3 linked regions of the Homo sapiens genome follow. The protein of the gene in region 1 purifies or fractionates together with the protein of each later gene. This does not show direct contact. Each region holds a gene or a part of one and is shown on either strand. Other genes may lie near its edges.

Region 1 (3,750 bases):
ACATACACTATATATATGTGTGTATGTCTGTATATATGCTTTTGTTATTTGTTGTTATTTCCATTTTACAGAAATCAGAGGCATAGAGAAATTAAGTAACTTGCTCGAAGTCATACAAGGTAGTTAAGTGGTGGTGCCAGGATTTCAGTCTGATTCTAGAGCCTCAAGTTGTTTTACACCTAGATTTCTTACGTTTCTAGGTTTTCTGTTTTCTTTTTTGTATGTGTTTTGTTTGATGATTAGTACGTTCAAGTGAAGAAAACTGAGGGGTAGTTCTCTTGGAGGTAGCAATGAAGTGCTGTGGAGAGCTGAAACAGCTTGATATCTTTCTTTCCCCCAGGAACATACAGCAGTCCCTCTATTGCCTTTCTTTTGGTGAGAATTTTACAGAAATGGGATGAAGAGATCATCCCATTTCTATCCTAGACATCATCTATCCTAGGCAGTTACTATGCTTTGTGAATGTTTAATCTTACCAGGTTTGCAGAGGTTTTTTTGTTTTAAATCATGGCTTTGCCAGGTGTATATGAATTTCACATAGAGTACCAAGTTTACCAATAGCTGGCCTCATGGTTCAATTCCTTAATTTGAAAATCGGTGTTATGGTGATACTTATTTCATAGGATTGTTGTGAATTAAGTGAATACATGTCAGAACTGTTGGTACTAACATTGCTGGTGCCTGTGCTGTAGTACTTACCACCACCACTGCTGCTACTGCTGCTATTACTATTACCATGTATATTCCTCTAGTGCTATGGAAGAAACTTAAAATAGCTCATTGTAAGGAATTTTTTTTTTTTTTTAATTCTGATACCTGTGTATCTATTCATTGGGCAGGAGAAAGCCGTTTTCTTTTTTTAGATTGAAAGAATCCTCTCGGCCATGGTAGCTCATTTGACTTATTTGAAGATATAGGTAGTAAAATGTTGAAATGTGAAATGTAATTTTATATTTAATATGCTCTGCTACTTCTGATTTTTAGTTATATTTAGACTTTATATGCTGTATTTTATTTTATTTATTTATTTATTTTGAGACGGAGTCTTGCTCTGTCGCCCAGGCTGGAGTGCAGTGGCACGATCTCGGCTTCCCAGGTTCACAACATTCTCCTGCCTCAGCCTCCCAAGTAGCTGGGACTACAGGCGCCCACCGCCACACCCGGCTAATTTTTTGTATTTTTTAGTAGACACAGGGTTTCACCATATTAGCCAGGATGGTCTCGATCTCCTGACCTCATGATCCGCCCACTTCGGCCTCCCAAAGTGCTGGGATTACAGGCGTGAGCTACCGCACCCGGCCTATATGCTATATTTTAAGATGAACTTTGTTAGTCAGAATTGTACTTTGCCTCTTTTTTTTAATGCTCCCCAGACAAAATTCATTTTTTTGGTTTACTCTCAAGGCTTGAGATTTTAGACTTTTGATGAAGAGTAAGTAGCACTTTGTGAAAGGAAAGTGGTGTCTCATAAATAGTGTCTTCCTTGGTATTCCCTTTATGCTTATTGAGATACATGTTTATATATCTGATGTTGACCTTTTAATTTTTTACAAAAGTTTTTGAGTGCCCTTAACTTTGATGAACTTTTTCGTAGTTGGACATTAATTTCAAGAAGACAACTAAATATTTTGGGGAGATTTGAGATATTTTGTGTGAATATTTGAGTGTAATTAAGAGTCTTAAAGATTAGAGATTGGTTAGGTAGAACAGTAATATATTACAAAGGACCTTCAAGTTATATTTCCTTCTCTGACTTCTGGAAAGACTAATTATAGTGACAAAAAAATTGAGTTTAATTAGTTTCATAGAGTTTTATTAAGAATTTGTTGACTGTATGCAATTTCTTTGTTTTATTTGCTTTCTCAATTATGAAATAATACTGGAATTAGGACTATGGAGGAAATGTTTGTGGGTTTTTTTTTTTCTTTCTTTTTTTTTTTTTTTGAAAGACAGTCTTGCTCTGTTGCCTAGGCTGGAGTGCAGTGGCGTGATTGTGGCTCACTGCAGCCTTGACCACTTGAGCTCAAGGAATTCTCCCACCTCAGCCTCCTGGGTAGCTGGGACCACGGGCACGCACCACCATGCCTGGCTAATTTTTAAAAATTATTTGTGGAGATGAGGTTTTGCTGTGTTGCCCAGGTTGGTCTCGAACTCTTGGGCTGAAGCATTCTCCCATCTCACCTCTAAAAGTGCTGAGGTTACAGGCATGTGCCCAGCTGGATATTTCTTAAATGAGTATTTTTGGCTTCTAGTAACCTCTTTTAACAGATATAAATGGGAATCTGGAGTACATTTAGTTTTCTGGTCTTCACCTTGTTCTGTTGTGTATTTTTGTTTGTGAATTACCTTGGGGCAGTTTGGAAGTATGTTTGGAAGTAATGAGGCTTAGATCAGTGTAGAAAGAAAAATAAGGTAACTTGAAGTACTTTGCTAGAGGTGAGTCATTAGTATTTTTTGTACTATACCTTTATTATGGCACTTGTTTAATTTTGTATTTGCTATTTGCATGTCTGTTTCCATCAGTACTTTTAAACTTATTTAGAAAAGGGACCGTATTTTACTTTTGTTTCAGTTACAGCACAACCTGACACATATATTTGTTGCATGTAGTATATGCTCAGTAAATATTTGCTGAATTTCAACATTTAGTATTTTAGTTGAATGGTTTAATTTTTGATTACCTATATATTGGAAGGTGGTCATCTTTTTTTACTTTTTCTTTTTTTTTATGGAGTCTCGCTCTGTCACCCAGGCTGGAGTGCAGTGGTGCGATCTTGGCTCACTGCAACCTCTGCCTCCCGAGTTCAACCAATTCTTCTGCCTCAGCCTCCCGAGTAGCTGGGATTACAGGCATGCACCGCCATACCCGGCTAATTTATTTATTTATTTATTTATTTATTTATTTATTTATTTATTTATTTGTATTTTTAGTAGAGACGGGATTTCACCATGTTGGTCAGGCCAGTCCCGAACTCCTGACCTCAAATGATCCGCCCACCTCAGCCTCCCAAAGTGCTGGGATTATAGGTGTGAGTCACCATGCCTGGCCGGAAGGGGGTCATCTTTAAAAAATGGAGCCTTCTGTGATTATGGGAAGTAAGTAGGAAAATGGAGGCTTCTGTGTTTTTGGGAAGTAAGTAGGAAAATGGACGCTTCTGCGATTATGGGAAGTAGGTAGGAAAATGGAGGCTTCTGTGATTATGGGAAGTAGGTAGGAAAATGGAGGCTTCTGTGATTATGGGAAGTAGGTAGGAAAATGGAGGCTTCTGTGATTATGGGAAGTAGGTAGGAAAATGGAGGCTTCTGTGATTATGGGAAGTAGGTAGGAAATTGGAGGCTTCTGTGATTACGGGAAGTAGGTAGGAAATTAGAGGCTTCTGTGATTATGGGAAGTAAGTAGGAAATTGGAGGCTTCTGTGATTATGGGAAGTAAGTAGGAATAACTTGTAAACAGGCTTCTGCTTGATTCATCAGGTAAAGAAATACTATGGCCAATAGCACTCTTCATTAATTGGTAGATCTGCTTTGGGCTATTGTAAAATGGCTGATTCTTGTTATTATCCTCTTATGGAAGTGCTTTCAAAGTAGAAAAGAAGTTAGGAACGTAGGACATCTATCAGCTAGAAAACGAAACTGAGTAATTGAGTTAAGTTAAAATGAAAATAATTGACATTTCCTCTATCATAGATGATATCATCAAGTTGAATCGAAAGGAAGGGAAGAAGCAGAATTTTCCAAGACTAAATAGAA
Region 2 (3,750 bases), on another chromosome or scaffold:
ATGTTGGCCAGGCTGGTCTCTAACTTTTGACCTCATGATCCACCAGCCTCAGCCTCCCAAAGTGCTGGGATTACAGGCGTGAGCCACCGCGCCCGGCCTGGTCTCAAACTTTTGACCTCGTGATCCACCAGCCTCAGCCTCCCAAAGTGCTGGGATTATAGGCGTGAGCCACGGCGCCTGGCCGCAAAAATGGAACTTCTGCATCACAGGTGACTAACGGTGCCAGGCACACAGTAGGTGTTCAATAAATCACTTTGGACTAAAAGAACACAGAGGCCAAGGGGAAGTGAAGAAACGACTCACAGGTCAGTTTTATTGGGTGCCTAGTGCAGGGGTCAGTACACTACGGCCCTCGGATCAGCTCTGGCCCTCTGCCTGTTTTTGTAAATAAAGTTTTATTGGGTGCCTAGTGCAGGGGTCAGTACACTACGGCCCTGGGATAAGCTCTGGCCCACTGCCTGTTTTTGTAAATAAAGTTTTATGGGCACAGAGCCATGCCCATGGTTTTACATATTGTCTCTGGCTACTTTCACTCTGCGATGGCAGAGCAGAGTCATTGCCGCAGAGACTGTGGCCTGCAATGCTGAAAATATTTACTCTCTGGCCCTTTACAGAAAAAGTTTGCCAAACCCTGAGCTAGTGTGTGCTGGGCCCTGTGCCAAGCCCTTTGTGTGTGCTCACTCAGTTAACCCTCCCACAGCCTTAAGGGTGGGGGCAGGGGGGTGGGGGGGAATAAGGCTCCGAGAGGTTGAGAAACAGACCCAGGGTCACACAGCTTGGAGATGGGTGAGCTGGGAATCAGACAGACCCGGGACCCCTGATATTCTTTAGGATCTTAGCTTTGTTAACCTTTGCTAATTTATCTTATTGTCTTAAATGCTAAAATGAATACACATTCATTGTAAAAAGGGAGGAATAAAGAAAAGGTGTTGACGGCCTTCTTCAGCCTGGGGTACATCCTGCCGTATCTTTCTCCACAGCTCATCCGGGGCTACTTTCCTTTAAATCTACAGCCATTCAGCAAACATCGGCAGAGGAGAACCGTTTTATAAGAAAACTAAGAAGTTTGGAAGAATCTTTCCTTCCTGCCCACCCTGGACCCCCATGAGTAGGTGTGCTGGGGCTGGTCTGCAGTGTTCTCACGGGAAACCAGGAAGCTGGGCCCAAGGCCTACATGTTGGGGAAGACAGGTCCTGCCTGTCTCCTGCTGTGGCTCCCCAGTGCTCTGAGGACAAAGCCTGAGCTCTCCCTGATTCTCCACCGTCCCTCTCACTCACTCTGGTCGTCTGGTCGCTGGGCCTTTAGTGAGTGTGCCATGGGGGCCCTGGGGCCGATTAAATTCCAGCCCCGGGGACCAGGCTCAGCTCCCAGCCAGGGCACAGACAGATCAGCACCTGCGGTTGTCTCCACCCCAACCCCCGGCCTTTGCAGGCACAGCGCCCTCCACCAGATACTCCGGCAAAGGAGGCCTGGGGACCCTGCGAGCGGGGCCGGGGGTGCAGGGAGCTGTCAGCTCCTCGCAGCGGCCTCCCCAGGACCCCCCTATCCCCTCGCTCGCCCTGAAATGTGTGTCCCTCTCGGCGTCTGGGCTCTCGAGAAAGGCCTTTGCTTGTCTGACTTCGCGAGGGTCCCGGCTCTGGCCCAGGAGCTGGGGAGGGGCGGGACTTGGTGACAGCCGGGTCCCAGCACCGCGCCCAGACCTAGGCCCTTCTCAGGGGTGCCCCGGGGCGGGGCGCGCGGGGCGGGGGGCGGCGGCGGCGCAGCCGGCAGGAGGCGCAGCGCCCGCTCGCAGCGCGGGGAGGTGGGAGGGGAGCGGGGCGGGGAGCGGGGCGGGCGGGAGGGAGAGGGGAGCGCGCCGGAGACGCGCGCGCCCAGCCCACCCCCCGCGCCCGCCGCCGCCCGGACAATAAACAGCAGCTTTGCGCGGGGCGATGCCCGAGCCGGTGCCGCCGCCCCCGCGCCGCGCAGCCCCGGCCGCCAGGCCTTAGCCCGCCCCGGCCCCCGCCAGGCCGCGTCCCCCTCCCCTCCCCTCCCCCGCGCGCCACCCGCGCCCGCCCCCGCCCGGCACCGCGGACCCACCCGGACCTCGGCGGGGAGATGGAGTGAGTAGGCGCGCTCGGGCCGCGGGGCTGGGGGCCCGGAGCTCCGGGAGCCGGGGAGGGGGGAGGCCCCCTCTCTCGCGCCCCATTGGGGGCGTCGCTGCCCCCGCGAGGAGCAGGAGGCGGCGCGGGGCTGCTGGGGCCGCAGCGCAGCCGGGAAGAGACTCGGGCTGGGCCGCGCCTGCCGGGAGGCCTCCCCGCTCCCGGACCCCGGCTGCCCACCCACCGGCGCGTGGGGACCCGGGCAGCGGCGGCTCGGGCCAGTCCAGGACGCGGGGAGGGGGAGGCTCGCGTCTCCGCCCGCGCCCCGCCCGCGTCTCCAGGGCGAGCCTCGGCTCTCGGCCACCTGTGGGTGGCCCCGGGGAGATGGAGCGACCCCTCCCCAGATTGCACCGGTCCGGCCTCGCGCTCACGCACCCTTCCCCCGCCCCAGTCTGAGCGCACGGCTCCTGGCGCCCTGGACGCGCGCGCGGGCCGGTGCCCCCCACCCCCGCCCTTCCCAAGGGCCTCCAGGGGTGTCCTGAGCCCCCCGCCACTGCGCAGGTCCCGAGTTACCGCTGGAGGGAGAGGGGCTGCCCTCGGCTTCCCGGGTCTCTGGGGTGTGTGAGAAGGGAGAGGAACCGGCGTTTTCCAGCGGGGCGCCTGGGTGGGATACCCTCTCGGGGAAGTGTCTCGGAGCTGGGGCTCCACTGGTGTAGCTACAGGAGTGGGCTGGCCCTGGGCTGGGATCCCTGGACCCCCGCATGGCTGCGCCTGTGTGTGTGGGGGGGGGGTGGCCAGTGGAGGCACCGAGCGAGGGCGCGTGGTCATTTCGGACACCGGTCCCCTCCTCCCGGTGCTCGGGTGCCCCTCTGCCCCTCACTCCCACAGGTGGGCACTGCACGGGCAGGGGTCAGGAGGCTCCTCCTGGGGTCACCCACCTGCCCACTTCAGGACAGGGGAGCCAGCTGCCCTGCTGAGGCCCGGGTCCCCACCCCAGCCCGAGGACCGAAGACCGGATCTGGAGGCCGCCTGTGGCCCCCTGCCCTTCCCACTGGGCGTGTTTTCTAAGCCGCCAACTTTCCCCGGGGATTCACCCGTGACCCGCCACGCCCGCGGCTGGGTGGGGGCCGCTGCCTCCCTCCCTCCCTGGGAAAGCGAGACACCCAGTGTCCTCTGCTTTTGAAAACCCAGACAAAGGCCTGACCCCTCTCCCCGTCACCCCGCCCCGGGAGCTCAGCCAGGGGCTCAGGGGAGCCAGGGCCCAGACTTGCCTGCTCCACACCCCCACCCCCCAGCCTTGTTTATCTGCCCTGCTCGCCAGGCCCCGGAGGAGCCTCTGGGCCTCTGACAGCCAGGCCTGGGCAGGGTGTGGCTGTGGGGAGGGGGCTGCCTAGGAGGACGACGGAGATCTCCCTCCCAGAGGAGGGGTGTCAGCGAACACTCCGGGTCGGGCCCATTGTTTCCTTCCTGCCACCCCTTCCTTTCCCACGGGGGATACTGAGGCCCAGAGAGGAGCTGCTGCCCCCCCCCCACCCCCCCTCCATCACACAGCACCTGGGGCCGGGGGGCCTCGGTGCCTCCTGCTCTGCTCCACGGTTTCTCCGTCCTGGGTCAGAGGGTGGCCCACAGGTCCCCCATTGGGTCATCATTGCTTTTGGGGATGCAGACA
Region 3 (3,750 bases), on another chromosome or scaffold:
AGGGGATAAGAAGATAAAGGAAGTAAGAGCAAAGAAAAGAAGGTATGAAATAATTGTCCAGTGAAGTGGAAGAGTCACTTAATTAAAAGATGTAGTAAAACGCAAGACAATACTGAAGATCCACTTAATGTTAATCTGCTTAATGTATCCTACTAAATGTGGCTGGAGAAAGGGTAATGATCTTTTCTCCAGCCAGAATTTAGCTGCTTGGGTGGTATTATACTGTATAATGGATGGAAAATTGGATATAACTAGGGTTGGGATTTTGCCAGGCAAATACATTGAAAAAAAAAAAAAAAAGCAATAGGGAGTATTGGTAAAGATGGAACATGAAATTTAGGCAATGTAAATAAAAAAGTTTGAAAACTTTTTTTTCTTTTTTACATGTTCAGTATATGCCTTTCTTGTATGTTCTCTAAAAATCATCCACAAAATTTAGCTATACCAGAAAAGGTGGAGTAATGACCACCTCCCTGCAAAATTCAAGAAAGAAGTGACGTGTGCAGTCTTTCGTTCTGCGTTTTTATTTTAGGAAAAAAAAAAAAGACTTGTAGGGCAGTTGATTTTGCCCAGGTAGATGGATTTGCAGAACACAATGTTTATGACTTATAGCCTATAAAGAATAAAAATAGGGTGAGGATAAACAGAAATCCCAAAGAAGGTTCCCAGCCCATGTTTCCAAGGGCAAAACTAGAGAGAAGCCAAGGAAAAATGCTTTAACTTTACTTTCCGTTATTGCTCTTGCTTCGGTATGTTTTCTGGCTTGCATTGCTTCTATCTGTGTTAAAGTCTGAGGGTAATAAATTCTCCTGAGCAATTTAACTACAGTTTTAACATGAACTGTGGGCTTTTTCACAACTCCCTAAAGGAGCTCACACCGAAGTTTCAGGTATGGTACTGCTGGTTACAGATGTCACAGCCAAAAATATCAACTAGCCATTCAGACAAACAAAAGTTTCTCCTTCCTGGACTCCTTAATATTTCTTAATTTTTTGTAATAATGTTTAATTTGTAAAACGATGATTTGAGTGTATTTTTAAATAAATATTACTTCATGATAATGAAGCTAATTTCTTGGTTTGAGAATATTAATTTCCGTGCCCTCAGGGAATATCTAATAAGTAATTTCTTAAGGTTAAATTACTTGTGGTATGTACTCCCTTAATCCTACCAAACTTTCTATATGAAAGAAGGCATATTCTTAAGGAAAAAACTTAACAGCAGTCAGTGAATATTTAAAGGATGGCCATATTATATATCTTATGGATTGCTTTAGTTTCCTTGATGTGAAGCAGCTCTGTACTAGTTAGAGCAAAGCAACATGCGTTTAAAGTAGATTTGTCAGAATCACAAAGTGTTGATTAATACTAATTTTATTCTAGTGTGGAATTTTTAAAAAGATCAGTATGGACTTAGATTGTATGAGCTACTCAGTAAATATTTTTTATGCCCACTGTATCATTGTGGGTATTAAAAATTAGATATATTGGAGTTCTGTCAGTGAACAAGATACATAAAGATCCCTGTTGTTATAGAGCTTACATGCCTGTGCGAGAAGATAGATAATAAAATACATACATGAATAACATAATAATACCTTCTAAAGGAACGTATAAAATACATTGGACCAATGATTAATAATCTGATCAAAATATATAGAGAAAATATTTTCTCTTTGTAATTTGATAAAACAGTTAAATGGTAACCAAACAGATGCAGGAAATGATAACATTAATAAAAATATATTCATATATTCAAAGGTTGTTCAAACAGATGAAACTGCAAGGAAACCAGACCATGTTCCTATTAGCAGTGAAGATGAGAGGAATGCAATTTTCCAACTAGAAAAGGCTATTTTATCTAATGAAGCCACCAAAAGTAAGGGAAAATCTTTATAAAAATGTTTTGAACTGGATGAGTTTTTATTTTCACTAAGCTCTACACCTAAGAATTTGTGGAATTTAATCACAACAATAATAATGATGACAATATTGATTGATTTCATGATCATATTAAAGTCAGTGTTCATCTTTAACTGTGACTAAATTCATCATCTTCCCCACTATTGCCCTACTCTCAAAGATTGAAGTCTAATTCTCCAAATCACATTAACTGCATTGTTGTTGTTTTTCTGATTGTTTTAGTTCTTTAGATGGTGAGCAGGTCTAAAACCATGAATGAAAAGCTCTGTTTTTAAGGAATTAAAAATTCAGTTTAATGGGGTCCTTGTGGAAACTAATCTTTGGACAGACCCATTTAAATCACTTTAGGATAAAGAACTATAAACAGAAATATTCTTAGGTTCTTAGTCTTTAGTAATTAGGTTCATAATTACTGACAGGGAATACAGAATGACCTATATATACTTCCTTGCTAGATGGACTTAAATATAAAAATACAGGAAAACTGAATTTTTAATTCCTTAAAAGCAGCCATACACTCATCTGTTTTGACCTGCTCACCGTCTTTTAGTTTTATAAATCAGTGGTTTCCAAACTTTTGAGATTTTAAGCATGGACCAGTAGAATTTCAGGAAAAATAACCCAGAATAACAATAATTAGAAGGATCTTGGGAACCACTGATCTACAAAGATTTCAGAAATTACTTATTTTAATTTGACCAACTGACCCTGTTCTTAGTTACCAGAGGGAAAATGTTTCAGAGTCGGATTTATGGAATAAATTTTTGAACTATACCTAATGTTGGCTTTTTTATTGTAAACCACTTGATAGGAGATGTGCAGTACACAACTTTCTTATTTTGCTATTTATTAAAAAGTTTTTTTAAATACAGAAACGTCTCTAGTTTAGTGGCATTAAAACCATCGTTTTTTTTTTTTTAATTAAAAAAAATTGGCTCTCTTTAATCATGGGAAAAGCTGTTTTTGTGGCCTTCAATAACATTAGTTGCCTGAATTTTTCTTATGTTTCTCAGTCATTAAAAAATATAAAAAGGAATCTTTGAAAGTTAGTAAATTCACATTGCTTTTTACCTAGTAAAATCTTTACTGCTTGCTGTGGAACTTTGTTTATCTGGTTGGTATAATCAGGTGACCTTCAGATGGCAGTGCTTTCATTTGAAAAAGATGATGATCATAATGGACACATAGATTTCATCACAGCTGCATCAAATCTTCGTGCCAAAATGTACAGCATTGAACCAGCTGACCGTTTCAAAACAAAGCGCATAGCTGGTAAAATTATACCTGCTATAGCAACAACCACTGCTACAGTTTCTGGCTTGGTAAGTTTATTATTCCTTGAATAAAAATGCTCCTTTTTCATTGCCTCTTCCCTGACTTCCCCGTCATACCAACCCAGTCACTCAGAGATGTTAGAGAGGGAAGGATAAATATTGGATCTCATAATTTAAAATTTCAAAATATTTTCTGAAAATGCAGTCATCTGTATTGTGAAGTATTACATAAATATACATTTTTAAAATAAAAAATAAGCTCAAGATAGATTATGATTTTTCTTATAGGCAATAATCTTTTCACTGATCTTTACGTCATTCATACAAAGCAGGTACTCTGTTTTTCTTGAATAAAATGAACTTCCCTAATCTTTATTCATAATGATTCAGAATCTTTAAGTGCGGCCCTAGTTATTATACCATATTACATCATTACTCTATGTAATTATCTATGAAGCTATGTAGTTATTTACCCCTGTATTAAGTGATTTTAGACTGTTGTTATTTTTTGAGTTACAGCATGTGCTTTCAAAATAGGGAGACTGTATGGTTGA

What was found.
Region 2: the proteins of FYTTD1 (region 1) and PALM purify together in Homo sapiens (affinity purification with mass spectrometry; 3 studies listed by BioGRID and IntAct, with this or other methods). This does not show direct contact.
Region 3: the proteins of FYTTD1 (region 1) and UBA6 purify together in Homo sapiens (affinity purification with mass spectrometry; 3 studies listed by BioGRID and IntAct, with this or other methods). This does not show direct contact.

The regions. Positions count from the first base shown.
Region 1 is NC_000003.12:197,752,739-197,756,488, forward strand, and holds part of FYTTD1 (UAP56-interacting factor), read left to right. Parts: intron 1-2,931; exon of another isoform or gene 2,932-3,071; coding exon of another isoform or gene 3,072-3,096; intron 3,097-3,687; coding exon 3,688-3,750. UniProt on the Homo sapiens protein: Required for mRNA export from the nucleus to the cytoplasm. Acts as an adapter that uses the DDX39B/UAP56-NFX1 pathway to ensure efficient mRNA export and delivering to the nuclear pore.
Region 2 is NC_000019.10:707,050-710,799, forward strand, and holds the start of PALM (paralemmin-1), read left to right. Parts: upstream 1-1,885; 5' UTR 1,886-2,097; coding exon 2,098-2,102; intron 2,103-3,750. UniProt on the Homo sapiens protein: Involved in plasma membrane dynamics and cell process formation. Isoform 1 and isoform 2 are necessary for axonal and dendritic filopodia induction, for dendritic spine maturation and synapse formation in a palmitoylation-dependent manner.
Region 3 is NC_000004.12:67,624,488-67,628,237, reverse strand, and holds part of UBA6 (ubiquitin-like modifier-activating enzyme 6), read left to right. Parts: intron 1-1,760; coding exon 1,761-1,878; intron 1,879-3,050; coding exon 3,051-3,244; intron 3,245-3,750. UniProt on the Homo sapiens protein: Activates ubiquitin by first adenylating its C-terminal glycine residue with ATP, and thereafter linking this residue to the side chain of a cysteine residue in E1, yielding a ubiquitin-E1 thioester and free AMP.